2 separate regions of the Homo sapiens genome follow, and region 1 is linked to region 2. Evidence: fine-mapped expression QTL. A gene starts in region 2. The other region holds a variant in brackets. All regions are shown on one strand. Distances are between the middles of the regions.

The links. PIP is the estimated chance that this variant, and not a neighbour inherited with it, causes the effect. A credible set is the group of variants that fine-mapping cannot tell apart.
Region 1: its variant is the best candidate, but not a certain one, in a credible set for the expression of MAP3K1 in regulatory T cells (Bossini-Castillo 2019, PIP 0.90).

The regions. Positions count from the first base shown.
Region 1 is chr5:56,900,228-56,908,566 of GRCh38, forward strand. No RefSeq gene overlaps it. Among named protein-coding and RNA genes, the nearest start is that of SETD9, 5.2 kb to the right of the region's middle. The variant G/A (reference allele first, on the strand shown) is at 4,312.
Region 2 is chr5:56,810,609-56,818,947 of GRCh38, forward strand. MAP3K1 (mitogen-activated protein kinase kinase kinase 1) reads left to right here and starts at 4,941. Exons shown (of 20, transcript NM_005921.2): 1 at 4,941-5,447. The coding sequence starts at 4,966. RefSeq lists enhancers at 4,169-4,298, 5,750-6,573 and silencers at 4,659-5,428, 5,499-5,618, 5,799-6,038.

The DNA of each region.
Region 1 (8,339 bases), 90 kb after region 2:
CATTTAGGGTTGTACTCAGCTGCACGTAAAAGTGACTGGACTACATAGCCTACAAATGAGAGAAGGTAAGCAGGTCAGGGCTGGTGTATTAGGCCTAGGGTGTCATCAATGTTGCCATGCTTTATCTTCCCGCTCCACTCTTCTCAGCATGAGGCTTTCACCCTCAGGCTCCAACTCTGATCTCCAATCTACAATCAGGGAAAGAAAAAGGAGAATAAAAAGGTAGTGCCTGTGTCAGGAAGACAGAAACTTTCCTTAAAATGCTTACGAGATTTTCACTCACATTTCATTTGACTAGAACTCCCTAGCTATAAGGAAGTCTGAGAAGAATGGACATCAAGCAGGCAACTCTACAGCATCTACCACAATGAGTCACAAGGGAAACGGGGGAGAATACTCAGGAGAATATGTTCAGTGAGGAAAAACCAAGACCAGAACCCCGATGAAGACCAAGATTTAAGGCATAGACAAGAAGCAGAATAGATAAAGGAGACAAGAGCTCATCTTCAGAAACTAGAAACGCACAGGGTCAGGGAAATCAAGAGAGGAGAATGTTTTAAAGAAAGGTCAGTAATTTCAAAAGCCACAGACGTCAGGTAAGATAAGAACTTAAGTCTCACAAGGTGAATGGCAAGGACCATTCCAGTGAAGCCGACTAGAAGGAAACATGATCATAGCTGGGCAAGCATGGTCATGGAGATGATGTGCATAGCCTACTTTGTCCAGAAGTCTGTCTAGGAGCAAAAGTGAAGGGAACAACGTGGAAGAATTATTTGGGCAATTATGCAACCTCCAGAAGAGGGCAGCAGAGTAAAACTTTTAATTTGCACTGCCTGCCAGATATCTGAAAATCAAAGGTTATCTCACCCCTTCCTCAGGAATAGAGCAGAAATCTCAGTGTTCCCCCTTAGAATACTGAAAAAAACTCAAAACTATCACTAAGAGTTGCATTTTTCCATTCTAAAACCTAGATTCTATGCTTATCTATTGCATAACAGGGTATTCCTAGTCCCTCTACCCGCTCCTAACAGTCTACAACAAAAGGAGAGGCTGTAGCAAGATACTTGATGCCCTTTCCTGGTCTCTTGTTCTCAGAACCACTCTACTCTCAGCTGGCTGGGTCATCCATCCATTCATCCATCCATCCATCCATCCAACCATCCATCCATCCATCCATCCATCCATCCATCCATCCATCCATCCATCTGTCCATCCATCCATCCATATCCATCCATGCATCTATCCATCCATGCATCCTGCCAACTACTGTTCCTCTGAGCTTTTCAAACTCTATTTCCAGCTAGTACTCTGCTACTAGAACATTCAATGACTATCTACTGCTGACTACCTCAAATGTCCATGTTTTTTAATGGTCTGACCTTATTCTGCCTAAATCTTTATTTCCTACTATCCGTAATACAAAATTTCTGTTCTACTCCTTTCGTTACATTCCTGCTCTCTGAATCCATTGTGTTCCACCCCACCTCTGCACCTTCCCTCACACCAGTGGTTTTCAAACTTTTTGTTCTCAGAGCAGTCAAGAAGTGCTGCCACAGAACCTTCCAGTCGATTCCCAAGACTGCCAAAACTAGCTGGTGTACTACATACCTATATGGAGCATGCTGCACAGTATAGTCCTAATAGATTTGTATATTTATTACATTTTTTTACAGTCGATGGCAGTAAAGTGGCCAAAGGAAAAGGTGCCTTTTGCTAATTCATACAAAGACTAGCAGAGATCATTTTCTCCTCCTTTTTATGCAATATTTTAGGTCCTGCAGCACAAAATTATTTTAAAATACTTTGTCTAATATCATCAATATGTAACATACTACTATAATTCATAGAACTGGTATTAACTACAACATTCAATGAAGTGTCACATACTTTCCTTCTCAAAATTTTGAATCACAATATGTGGTTCTAACACTCAATTTCCCAAATATTTTTGTCTTCAGACCCCATTACACTTTTAAAAATTATCAGAAGCCCCCAAGGACCTTTTGTTCATGTGGTTAATAGCTGCTATTTACTGTATCAATATTAAAACTGATAAATACATAAAAATGCATTAATTCACTAGAAATAACTATTAAAACTTATTACATGTTAAATCAGATAACATATCTTTATGAAAATAGCTATATTTCACCCCCCAAAAAATAGGAAGAGTGGCATGTTTTATATTTTTTTCAAATCTATATAATTTTTTTTTTTTTTGAGAGGGAGTCTCACTCTGTCACCCAGACGAGAGTGCAGTGGCGCCATCTCAGCTCACTGCAACCTCTGCCTCCCGGGTTCAAGCAATTCTCGTGCCTCAGCCTCCCGAGTAGCTGGGATTACAGGCACCCACCATCATGCCCAGCTAATTTTTATATTTTTAATAGAGACAGGTTTTCACCATGTTGGCCAGGCTGGTGTCAAACTCCTGACCTCAAGGGATTCGCCCGCCTTGGCCTCCCAAAGTGCTGGGATTACAGGCGTGAGCCACTGTGCCTGGCCAAATCTATGTAATTTCTAACTTAATACAAGGCAGTTGGATCCTCATATCTGCTTGTGCATTCAATCTGTTGTTTTATCACACATCATGTAACCTCTGGAAACTCCACTGTACCCTCAAGAAAGAATGAGAGTAAAGACAAATACAACTTAGTATGATTAAGAAAATAATTTTGACCTCATAGAGCCCAGAAAAAATCCTAGGGACCCCCAGGGTCCCCAGGCCACATTTGAGAATTGCTGGCTTCTGTTAATCCCTTCCACTTCTCTTCTACTTATTTCTCCTTGAAGCACTCCCCAACTCCAGTAGCTCACACTGAAATTCTATGGTAATTAATATTTAATTTTTAGAAATTATATGTTTTCCCAAGTAGACTGTAATCTTTTAAAGTTGTACCTAGGCATACAGTTTTCAATGAATAAATATTTGCCAGTTATGTTACCCACATTAGACTACATAGCTATTCAAATAGCCTACAGAATATCCACTATCTCTAACTATTATCTCTCTTCCAGCACAGAATTGTGAAATCAAAGTTGTGCCTGCTACTTCCTCTGTCCCCCTGACACCCAATAAACACACACACACACACACCACATTTTCCTTCTCTGTGTTGGGTCATTCCCATCAACACACAAATATGCTACGAGATCTTTTATCTTACTGAATTATTCTCTGCCTTTGGCTCCATTTCTCTTCTTCTCTTTCCATAAAATTTACTGAAAGAGACACACACACTTGTTTCCCATTCCTCACCTCACATTTGCTTCTCAACGCACTCAAACACACTCAAACCTATCACCAAAACTGCTTTTGACCAAGTTATGAGGGTTCTGCATTTATTGACAGGTGACTTCATGGTCACTGCTCAATCTATGTTCTTTGCCATCCCCCTTTTCTTCCTAGGTGATCTCATCCAGGGCTCTGGCTAAAGACTCTATCACCAGCTATGGCTTCGGAGCTCCAGATGTGACAATATTCAACTAGATACTTGACATTTCTTGGAGGCATTTCAAAACTTCACCTTCCCATATCGAATCCATTGGCAAGTCCTGTGAGTTCCTCCAAAATAGAATCCTAATCCATCCACCCTCTCCATCTCCACAGTTACCATTCTAGTCTAAGCTACCATCATCTCTGCCTAAACTACTGTATTCACCTCCTAATTGGCCTTACCGGTGTGGTGATTGCCCACCTTTTCACCACATAATATCCAAAGTGATCTTTTTAAAACATGAATCAGATCCTATTACCCTCCTGCTTAAAACCCTCCAGTGGCTTCCCATTACACTAAGAATCCCAACTCCTCACCAGGACCTACAGGACTTGGCATCTTCTCTTTCTCCCTGACTTCATCTTTCACTTTTTCTTACTTACCCTGTTCCATAACCTTATTTTCCCTGCTTGAACATGTGAAGCTCCTCCCCACCCATGCTTGTCCATTTGCATTGCAATAAGGAACACCTGAGACTGAATAATTTATAAAGAAAAGAGGTTTATTTTGCCTCACAGTTCTGCCAACTGTATGAGAAGTGTGGCGCTGGAGCATCTGCTCCTGGTAAGCCCTCAGGAAGCTTCCAATCATAGCCGAAGGCAAAGGGGGAGCTGGTGTATCACATACAGAGAGAGGGAGCAAGGGAGAGAGGAGATGCCAGGCTCTTTTCAACAACCAGCTCTCGCATGAACTCACACAGCAAGAACTCACTCATTGAGGTGAGGACAGCACCAGGCCATAGGTGAGGGATCTGCCCTCATGACCCAAACACCTCCCACTAGGCACATCTCCAACACTGGAGGTCACATTTTAACAT[G/A]AGATTTGGAGGGATAAAAACATCCAAACCATATCACTACCTCAGTGCCTTTGCATTTCCCATTGGGAGAATCTCCCCGTGGATATTTTCAAGTTCGTTGCCTTCTTATTCAGGTCTCAGCCATTCATGTCATCACCCTATCGAAAATTGATACCCCTAATCCCACACCATGTGACCCACATAAAGAGAGTGGGGTCCCAGCAGGAAACAGATGACACACACAAATTAAGACATTTGAAAATAATTGTGTAACAGCATGGACAGAATGAAGGGAAACCACAAGGATAGTACACAGAACTGTGGAGTTGGCAATAATAGAGTGCTGTTACCATCCATAGGCTTGAATGAAACCCGGAAACACATAAGACTACATGGAGAGGACCTTAGGTTGGAATACAGCCAGTACACAGAGACCAGCACCTCACTCTCCTCTCTTCTTGCAGTTTCCTGCCAGTGCTCTCCACTGGTTGAATCCACTTGGAAGCAGGAAGATGAGGGACCTTGTTGATGTGCAAGCCAGTCAATCCCCCAGGGTGTGGACAGTGGATCTGGACAGGCTACATAAGATATCCAGCCCACTCTCTTCTCATTATCCTGCCTTGTTTTCTTTATTGCATTTATCACTGTCTGACATTATTTATGTGTTTACTTAGTATCTGTCTCCTGCACTAGAGCTCGGGACATAATAGAAGTTCAATAAATTATTTAAAAATCAAGTTAATCTCATTTTGAACTCTGGAAGTTACAATCTGTCCAGGCATACATGCCTTATTTATAATATTTAGGACACTGATGTTAAAGATGATTTTACCAGCCAGGTGCAGTGCCTCACGTCTGTAATCTCAGCACTTTGGGAGGCCAAGGCAGGAGGACCGATTGAGCTCAGGAGTTCAAGACAAGCCTGGGCAACATAGTGAGACCCCATCTCTACAAAATTAAAAATTAAAAAATTAGCCAGGCATGGTGGTGCATGCCTGTAATCCCAGCTACTTGGGGAGAATAAGGAGGGAGGATTGCTTGAACCCAAGAGTTTGGAGGCTGCAGTGAGCTATACCCTGTCTCAAAAAAGAACATTTTTCCTACACAGTAGTTTTGTGATTTATAGCATAAATGGGTTTTAAATGGAAAACACAGCACATACATTCTTATATTCAATTGGGTAGAGTATTTGGGGAAACTGGAAACAACAGGAAGTGGGAAAAAGAGTCAGAAGAAGAGGGTAATTTTGGATAGCAGCATATCTCCATGCCCATCGTGGCCAATCTTTTGCTTGCTATCTATGATATATTATAAAACTGTCTGTCAAATTGTCATTCTTCATTCATCTGTATTTAAAAGTTATGTAAATCAATAAAGACAGATGATTTAAAAGACACTATGAACCAATGACCTACTTAATATTTATAGAACCCTAAACCCAACAACTACAGAATATACACTCCTTTCAACTGAACACGGTATATTCACCAAGATAGAGTGCATGCTGGGACACAAAACAAGTCAATAAATTTAAAAGAATTGAAATCATTCATGTTTTCTGACACAACAGAATTAAACTAAACACCAGTTACAATAAGATATCTAGAAATCCCAAATATTTGGAAATTAAAAACACATTTCTAAATATTTCATGGATTAAAAACATAAATAACAAAGAAATTTTAAAAATATTTTGTACTGAATGATAATGAAAATACAACATATCAAAATTCCTGAGATTTGGCTACAGTAATGTTTGGAAGGATAGTTATAACTTTAGATGCTTCTATAGAAATGAAGGAAAGACCAAAATCAGTGACCTAATATTCTATTCTAAGAAACTAGAAAAAGAAGAGAAAAATAAACTACTTTATGTTTAAGTAGAAAACATAAAATAATAAAGATAAGAATATGACTGGTCACGGTGACTTATGCCTGTAATTCCAATTATTTGGAAGGCATAGGCAGTTGGGTCACTTGGGGACCAGTTCAGGCAACACAGTGAGACCCCATCACTAAAAATAAAAAAAGAGAGAAAAAAGATAAGAACAGAGGTCAACAAAATAAAAAATAAGCAGGGAAAAGTAATAAAGCCAAAAGCTGTTTCTTTGAAAAGATTGACAAACCCTCAATTACAATGATGAAGAAGAGAACACAAATCACCAAAATCAGGAACAAAAATGGGCTATTACAACAGATCATACAGACATTAAAAGGTTAGTAAGACAGTATTTATAAACAACTTTATACCAAGATATTTGGCAACTTAGACAAAATGAACAAATTCCATAAAAATATAACTTACCAAACAACACAAGATGAAACGGACATTATGAATAGCCCTATATCTTTAAAATAAGTTGAATTTATTATCAAAGAAAATTACAAGCCCAGATGTTTTCACAGGCAAATTCTATCTAAAAAATTTTAAAACATACTTCAAAATAAATGTGGGATGACAATAGCATATATTAAAACCTACAGGATCTGACCAAAGAGGTACTCATAACTGAGTAGTTATGTCAGAAATCCAAGGACGGTCAACATTTGACAATGTGTCATCATTCACTACATGAATAAATGAATAGAAACTATATGGTCATCTCAATAAGCAGAGAAAAGCATTTGATATTTATCATTCATTTAAAATTTAAAACAATAAAAATTTTTGGAAAGTCAAAAATAGAACTTTAAAAAACTTCATAAAGTATACATACCTACTAGAAAACTACAGTAAATATTAAACTTGAAGGCAAAACCTCAAAAATAGAAGAATGCAGTAGACTTAAACCAATATGGGTAGATCTTCAAGATGTATTTTTGAGGAAATCAAATAAGTTGTGGATCCTTATAATATTTTAACAATACTCACACAAAATACTATGTATTTTCTATAAAAACATACGCGGGTATGTAAATACATAAAAATAAAACTGGCAGAAAACACACCCGTCTGATAACTTCTGAGAAGCGCCAAGTACCAGGATTGGTGGAAGTACAAGGTACGGTGTTTGGTTAAGGGTGACTTGAGCTTTAGCTACCATGTTTCTATTTGTATAACTTTAGATGCTTCCATTAGAAAAGAAGAAAAGATTAAAATTAGTGACCTAATAACCTACTTTAAGAAACTAGAAAAAGAAGGTTTTCATTAATTACTTAGCTAACCAAAATTTAATTTTAATACCATAAATATAAAAAAACTGTAAAAATATACAAAAACTGATTTTTTTCTTTTTTTAGACAAGTACATTACCATAGGTAAAGATTAAACTAGTTCTTTTGGGTTCTTTGTTAAGTTTGGAGACTATAAAGAAACTTTCTTGTATGCCACTTATTAATACATCCTGGAACTGAATTGACTCCATTTAGCAAGTCAGGTAAATCTAGATTATGCCAAATTATCAAACAAACACAGAGTCTGAGAGAAAGCCTCTAGAGTTTGCTAACATTCTATATGATATGAACGAAATAGAGACATTGGTAGATACTCTTTCTCTTTATTTCTTTCAGAATAGAACAAATTAGTCCCGCAGCTACTGGCGATTGGCTGAATTTTTTTTTTTTTTGAGACGGGATCTCACTCTGTCACCCAGGCTGGAGTGCAGTGGCGGATCTCGGCTCCCTGCAACCTCCGTCTCTCAGGTTCAAGCGATTCTTCTGCCTCAGCCTCCTGAGTAGCTGGGACTACAGGCACGTGCCACCAACGCTCGGCTAATTTTTGTATTTGTTCTTTTTTAGTAAAGACGGGGTTTCGCCATGTTGGCCAGATTGGTCCCGAACTCCTGACCTCAGGGGATCCACCCGCCTCGGCCTCCCAAAGTGCTGGGATTACAGGCGTGAGCCACTGCGCCCGGCCTTGGCTGAGTTTTTATTAGATCTGAGCCGTTCAATTTCAATAGTTTAGGATCCAACCTCACTCTCAGGCAAAGAATAGAGGAAATGATACCAACGTATTTATCTGTCAATAAACACTTGGTGATTTGAATATGGTTAAGGGATTCCTGTAGTTTGCCCCCCTTAAAACTGAACTTTGTCCAAACCTGTTCTAA
Region 2 (8,339 bases):
GCAGTGGTGTGATTATGCACCTTGCAGTCTGGAACTCCGGGGCATAATCCACCGTCCCATCTCAGCTTCCTGAGTACCTGAGACTACAGGTGTGTGCCACCATGCCCAGCTAATTTTTTTTTTAATTTTTGTAGAGATGAGGGTCTCACTATGTCACCCAGGCTGGCCTCAAACTCCAGGCCTCAAGTAACCCTACTGTCTCGGCTTTCCAAAGTGCTGGGATTACAGGCGTGAGCCACTGTGCCCAACCCCATGCCAACTTTGTATACCTCTTTATAGCAGCTTTGGCCATAAAACAATGGAAATCAATTGCAAAGTGAAGGTGCAAATGTTGCAAAAGATGCAGAAGTGAACAGAGCCAATGAAAGTGGTCCTGAACTGCTCAGGTCACATGCAAAGCCTTGTGAATGCAGGATTCAGCAGAGTTGGACCAGGAAGTTGGTAAAAGGAAGAAAAAACTGACAAGGACACTAGTCTAAAAAAAGCAATTGAGTATTACAGGAGGATCTTGGGAAAATGTATGAACCCTTCAAATATTGTTTGCAAAAATGATAGCCCTCACTAAGCCACAAAGGTCAAATGGAAAAAGAGTATCTCAGCATGCATCAAAAAACAGCAACTACGATGGCCATTCAAAGAATTCAGAGAATCAGTGCAAGATTGTAAAGTGAGAAGAATTTTGCTTACTCTGAGGCAAATTAAATTTAATAAGTTGTAGTTGTGTTCTTAAATATAAAATCCCAAGTACTTTTCATTATTTATTACAAAAATTAATTTCTGATTTTAAGAACATGCAAATACATGCAAAATGTTTAGAAGGTTTATTAATAAGAGGGAATCATACGTATCTCTTAAGTATTTTACTTTAGCTTAAAACATATAAACAACAGTGTTTTGTTTTGGTTGGTTTGGGGTTTTTTTGGTCAATATTTGGCTGTAAGTCTTTAGTCTTTAAAATGTGGGTTCACCGTTTAGAGTTCCATGTATCTTTCACATCATCTACAATTTTCAGTTTTAGTTTTTTTAAAGTGACTACTGATAGATACCTGCAAAGTAAATTCTTCCCAATCTTTCATAATGGTCATACCCACAACTAATTTGACAGATTTTTTCAGTGCCTCGCCTCAAATACTTCCTATTAACATATGGTAAAGGAAGAACACCCTTTCAATTAAGCATGTCCTCTGATCATTTTTCTCTTAAAAAATCAGTGTGTCCATATGCAAATGCATAATGACAACCTGAATATTCACATAAGTGATTAAAATAAAAATGACTAGAAGCATCAAAAACTATTGGAAAGACTGGCACTTAGGTTTCCCCGTGGTGGTATGCGGTGGCTGGGAAGAAGTTAGAGAATTGTTAACTAGTTGATAAGTGTTGCACTGGGTACTGCCTCACTTTGATCCCCAGTTTCAATCACTTTTCTCTCAAAGCATTTCACTTCATTTTCACTGGAACAACTTTCTTTTCGCACACACATACTCATGTTTTTAAATTTAATAATCAATTGTGTAATATTTAATTAAATTTCACAAGGAACATTGTAATAGGTGGAATCAAGTTTGGGAACAAGCACAATGGATTCTCATGGGACCCATAACTCACCTAGTGGGAACAGAAGTATGCAGGTGCACACCAGCCGCTGGCCTGAGCATTTATTGTGCTGTATCATCCCTCTGCATGTTGTACACCACACAGTAATGGCTGGTATCTGTTACTGGATGAGTCAGCTAAATGGAGGCTGGTTAAGAGACCTTCTACTATAATGTCATTTACAGTGCCCTTGTAGGGAACCAATTATCCCACTGATGACAGGATTTTCTGACTTAGAACATCTGAAAACACCTGGGAAGTATGTTGTCTGGAAAGAACATGCAGAAACCAAATTCTAGCCCCAGCACTCCTGCAAGTATTCCATAATAAATATTTGTAAGCTTGAAAGAACACCAGCTTTTACCCTATTCTCAAGGTTATATTATTCTTTTATGTTTATCTGAGGTATAGATCTCACAAACAGCCATGAATATGTGAATACATTCACATACTGATGGATCTGGAATTCTACCAGTCAGCCTGATAAATACCCACTAATAAAAATATCTGTAGATTGGAATATTTTGTTTATTCATTTTTGTAGAAATGAAAAACAACAAACAATATCCTCAGAGAAGAAAAATTCCTGCATATGCACAGTAGGTGCTTACTAAATATATGATGAATGATGTACAGGCTGAAATATTTCTCCCAATGTATATTATGTCTGCTCATTCTAATATTTGTGATATTTATGTACAGTGAGGAAATGCCCAGTGTCAAAGTGGATCCTCAACGTGAATATGCTGCAGGAACTGAAGTGTGATGTAGGCAGTTTCCAGAAGCACTATGTGGAGGCAGTGATCTGTAATGCACTGGTATTAAGGTTATTGAAATGGTCATGAAATTGCCATGAAATTGCATGCGTGAAATCATTGCAAGGTTTACGTCCCAGTGAGGATGGAAATGAAGAGCTTGGAAACAGGAATTGGAGCTTTCAGTCTAGAAACAACCTTGGAAGAAATACAAGTCTCCTGAATGTTATTAAATAAATCATATTAAGAGAATTCAGAGCCTACAGTACTTGATATTTGACATCCACCTCTCTGCAGTAACATAGCAGGACTGAAGAGCACCAAAACCAGCTAGAGTCTTAATCACGCATTAGACTCAGAAACTTCTATTAACATATGGCAGAGGGAGAACACCCTTTTCAGTTAAGCATGTCCTTTGATTCTCTCTTTAAGAAATCAGTGTGTCCATATGCAGATGCATAATGACAACCTGAATATTTACGTAAACAAAGAAAAAAATGACTCAAAGCAACAAAAACTGTGGGAAAATACCAACACTTAGGTTTCTCCATGGTAATACGTGGTGGATGGAGGAAGTGAGAGAATTGTAGCTAGTTCATAGTGCTGCGCTGGGTAGCCCTCTCCCTTTGATCCCCAGTTTCAACCACTGTACAAACAGTCAAAAATCAGTTTTGCTGGAATCTCCTTTTTACTCTGCTACTCTGGCTAAAGTCTTCCACTTACTTTTCTCACTTACAGGTACCTGAATATGTGCGTGCAAATGTAAAAGTCTTTAGATCAAAATAGGAACAAGGAAAGTTTATCCGTTTCAGTTTAGGATTTGGTGGGTGTGGCAACCCAGGAAGACCTGAGAAATAACCACTGTTTGGTTTGAATGATACATTTGACTGCCATTAAAATAGCATATAATTATAGCCTAAATGTAGACTTAATTTTTAACAGATTTATCTGAACTTTCAAAATTTGTACCGTTGGGTGTAACGATCTAAAACTATCTTATGGGAGATGTTACAGCAGTTTTCAAATCATTGAGCTAATATGAAATCTGGACTTTTTAAAACCCCTCTGATCTAACCTGGTTACGCAGTTAACATTGTATCTGGGAAAGGGGCTTTCATTTTACCTAGTCTCCAGAAGTCAATGGAATTATTCTGTAAATAGTTCAGGCTTTTGTCTAAATATGTGAAGACTGACAAGACTATCTCCGTGAGAATCCGCACCCCCCCACCCCAACCTCCCCCCTCCTTAATCATGTTTCACAAAGTAAATCTATAGACGTTCCTCCTGGGTTTTGGGAGATTCCCCATCCTAAACAAACCAGCTGGAGGAAAGGAAAGGAAGGAAGAAATAAACGCAACACAGAAGTTCTCCTCAGTTGACAAAAGGTCAAAAATCATTAACGTGTAAATGTTGCTTTTTCCATCCCAAAGCACCTTCTCACGTAGAGTCCAGGGACTAGGAGGACTCACAACGCAGCGATGGGCAGCCAGGCCCTGCAGGAGTGGGGACAGAGGGAACCCGGCCGGTGGCCCGACCCTGCAGGGAAGAAGGACGTGCGGCGAGAAGCATCGGATTCGGGGAGGGCCGGGACCTGGCCGAGGGTGACATTACCGAGCACTTCCTGGCACAGCGCTGGTCCCCTCCCCAAACGCGCTATATGTGGTTCTGTACGGGACTGCCTTTCCCAAAGACAGCCAAGGAAAAACTAAAGATCGACGGGGACACCCGCCTCCCTTCCTCGCCCCAACGGTTTCTCAGAGGCTGTGGGGACTTGGTGAGGGTAGGGGGTAGTTGTCCCAAATCAGCAGCTTCAGGATGTAAGGTATTACAGAAAACTTTGAAGTTTTGTTATCTGTAGCACAGGGACAGGGGTGGGACAATAGAGAAGGAATGTTTTCTTTTCAAAAGAAAACACAAACAAAACTTTATTTTTCTGGTCCGCGGCAGCCTGTCTGCTGAACGTTGACTTGCTTTCGCTTTGCAGCAGGCGACGGTCCCGGGCGCCACCTGCGCGTCGGTGGGAGGCTGGTCCACGCCCGGGTCCCCCGACGCCCACTGCAAAGGGCAGTGGGAATGACAGACTGTAAACCCTCTCGCCTGCGTCCCCTTCAAGCACCAGAAACCCAAGTTGGAACTAATTCTTTCTTTCGGAAGGTGCAACTCCCCTCCCGCGAGCTCCGCGGTGCCGGGCCGAGATTGCCGAGAGGAAGCGGCGCAGCGCTGCCGCCAAGGCTCCTCCTGTCGCCGGTGCGGCCGGGACTACCTGGCGGCGCGGCGCGTGCAGCGCGCAGAGTCCCGGGAGCCCACGCCTCCGCCTCCGCCCCCGCCCCCTCCGCCTCCCAGTCCACCTCGCCCGCCCGCCCTCTCGCCCGGCGGAGAGCACAGCCCACTCCCTCCCACCTGCGGCCGCCGGGCCGCCCTCCACCCACACCTCTGCCGCAGGCCGGACCCAGTGCGCCCGCCCGTCGGTCAGTCCAGGCCAGGCGCCCGGCGGGCCGCGCTCACGCAGTTGGCGCAGGAGGCCTTACGCTGGCGGCGCAGTGCCCGCCCCCTGCGCTCTCCCCGCCCCCTCCCTCCCTCGCAGGGGCCGAGCGAATGTAGCCCGCGAGAGAAAATGGCGGCGGCGGCGGGGAATCGCGCCTCGTCGTCGGGATTCCCGGGCGCCAGGGCTACGAGCCCTGAGGCAGGCGGCGGCGGAGGAGCCCTCAAGGCGAGCAGCGCGCCCGCGGCTGCCGCGGGACTGCTGCGGGAGGCGGGCAGCGGGGGCCGCGAGCGGGCGGACTGGCGGCGGCGGCAGCTGCGCAAAGTGCGGAGTGTGGAGCTGGACCAGCTGCCTGAGCAGCCGCTCTTCCTTGCCGCCTCACCGCCGGCCTCCTCGACTTCCCCGTCGCCGGAGCCCGCGGACGCAGCGGGGAGTGGGACCGGCTTCCAGCCTGTGGCGGTGCCGCCGCCCCACGGAGCCGCGAGCCGCGGCGGCGCCCACCTTACCGAGTCGGTGGCGGCGCCGGACAGCGGCGCCTCGAGTCCCGCAGCGGCCGAGCCCGGGGAGAAGCGGGCGCCCGCCGCCGAGCCGTCTCCTGCAGCGGCCCCCGCCGGGTGAGCAGCACGGCCGGGGTCGCGGCGGGGACTTGGAGAGCGGGCAGAGGGCAATGAATGAACCCCGGGCACCATGCACGGCGTCCCGGGGTTCAGCGCAGCGAGGCTACGCGCCGCTCGCCGGGACCTACGCCCCTGAGCACCCCCCGACCCCTTCGGAGTCGGGCGGCGCCCCGGACCCAGCCTGGGGGACCGGACGGGGACGTGCGGAAGAGTTTGTTATTGTTTGCAGACATGTGACAGGCGTGCGAGCCTCTCTGCGGGGAACCGTTGCGAAAAGGTGTAGGGGGCCACGGCTGGCTTTGTGGGACTCCTGGAATCGGGGCTCTCCGAGGAGCCCGGGGGCGGGGCACGGCCCTGCGGCGGCGCCCCCGGACGGGTGTCCCCGGGGCAAAGGCACTGGGGGGCGAGGCCCGAGCCTGAGGCGGGCGGTGGTCGGAAGAGGGGCGGGGTGGGTGAGAAGCCCGAGGTCGGGTGGGAGACTGAGAGGACCGAAGAGAAAGTAGCAGGTCCCAGCGGCCGTGACAGGCAGAGCCCCTCGGCCCGCCCGGGACTCGAGTCCCTAGGCAGATACCGCGGGCTGGGCCCGGACGCAGGCGGCGCGCCCCCAGCGCCGGCCGCAGGGCTCCAGGAGGACGGCTCGGTAACGCCTGTCAAAGCCGTGCGGCGGGAGGCTGCACACTCGCGGAGGCTTGCAGTCTTTTAGGAAGTGCGGTTTGTCTAATTGCAGCCCCCAAGGGGCTTTGAGTGTTCCTGGGAATGCGAACTGCACTGCTAAGTCACTTGAGTGACTTCTGTTTGGAGTTTGAATTTGGCCTTTGAAGTTTGCATTTGGCGGAGTGGTGTAAGAGCCAGGACCGGATGTGTCAGCCATTCAGTTTCAAAGCAGTGGTGACTGCTCCCCGCAGCCCCTCCGGCTTGGCCCGGGGACTGCGGCGCGGGTGCAGTGCTTCCTGCTCGGTGCCCTGGCGCGGGCCGCCCGCTGAATTCCAGGGGCCGCAGTGCGGTGGGCTTCGGCTCAGATGCGTCTTCTGGTGCATATGAAGTACAGTATGTGTAAGGTAATTTAGACCAGCGGTTTATTGGCCTCGCCCATTTTTGGCTACTGGAAATTTTTATGTTAAAGGAAATTCTTTTAAGTGTGACAGCTACATCCTTGTTTGTTTGTTTTTTAAAAACCTGATTAACGTATGCAAAGTACAAAGTCTTGATGGGTATTTTGAGTTGCTGGAAATGTTTTTGTGATAGTCCCTCGTGGCCCTGTAGAATTCCCTGACCTTTATTATGAGAAGAAAGCGTGTCATTTTGTGAGACGAATTTGACAGTAGGAGTCCTTGGTTTGGATTCATTATCTAAAGTGATCTGGCATTTTTTGTGCATTTGATTATTTGCTTAAAATCACGATCCATTTAGTATTTGGAAGTCCCCTTCCTCTCCCCAAGAACTAAAAAATATGCTTCGCACTGTACCATGGCACTACTGAGACCAAAGGAGATTTGTGACTGATACAGTTTTGTGTGCACTTGTACATGTAATTTATTCTTACAAGAGTTATGTACCTCTATAGTTTTCCCATTTCTGTGCAGATTGTATTAAAACTTAACTGGAATAATTCTTTGAAGGCAACTTCTACTTTAAATGAATTCCAGATAAAAATTTTTAACCCCAAATTTAAGAAATTGTATCTATTGAGACCTAACTTTTTGGATACAATAAATAATTTAGCAAACGTCAGCATTCTAGTACTCTTAATGAGCTGTGAATATAGTAGAAGAGCATCCACTGTAAAAATAATGTACTGAAATTGTTTAATGTTGTCTCTTGACACAAAATAAGAGGACTAAGGTGGAGGCAGATAGAATTTAGGGACTAAGTAATCCATGCTTAGTATTTGCGTTTTGTAACCGAGGTTTTTTCCCCTTTGCTTAAGGTGTAGATTATAATTGCACAGTATAAGAAAATAATGGGCTTGTAAGGATAATCTTTTTTAAAGAAATTATTTTTACGAGTCAGAATGCTGTTGGTTTATCCCAAATGTCATACGTAAAGATTTCATTTATAGTAAAATGTTGATTCCCTAACCTTATGAAATATAGTGAATTTTTTTTTCTTAACAATTGGGTTGAAATTCATTTGAATCTGTTCGTATAAAACTTTGTGGGGAAAGGGCTTGTATCTTATTTGAGTGTGTATATTTTGTATTGCATGTTGGTTATGCTACACTATTACTTACCATTTAAAGTTTTAGGAAAAAAAACCCTTAATTATAGCCAACTCAATAAAATATCAATTGAACTTTATGTTTTACTTTTTTTTGACAGTTAAGTTACATTCATACTTCCAAGAGGAAAATCTAAGATTTTGAAATATTTGAGAGTTCTGTGATCTTTTTTTTAATTTTAGAATTTCCTTCTGATCTTTGAATGTAGAAAATATACTTTGAATTAGAATTTATATAAATAAATAATACTCGTATTTAAATAGAAGATTTTAAGTTTGTCCCTCTTTTTCAGGGTGATAGCTGAAATCAGTGAAAGTGCCTGTAAGTGGCGCCCAAGGGTTTGGAATTTTTCCTTATATTACAGAATTTAGGGGCTTTTTCTTCCTATTTACTGTCTTTGAAGAAAAATTACAGTGTTACTCTCCATTGAACAGCCTATTGTGAGTTTGGTAGATATAATTACCCCATCCTATTTTTGTAACTTAAAAAACCAAACTATCAATTTGCTGGCCCCGTGAAAGAACAAGATATGCTGTACTTGTTAATGTTAGTTTTTGTTTAAAACTAAAGGTATTTCACAGGCTGCTTTTATATCCTCATATAGCCCTCAGATTTCACTTCCTTTTTAAAGCTATTAGGCTAAAAATATGATTTAGTGACCTTTTACTAAA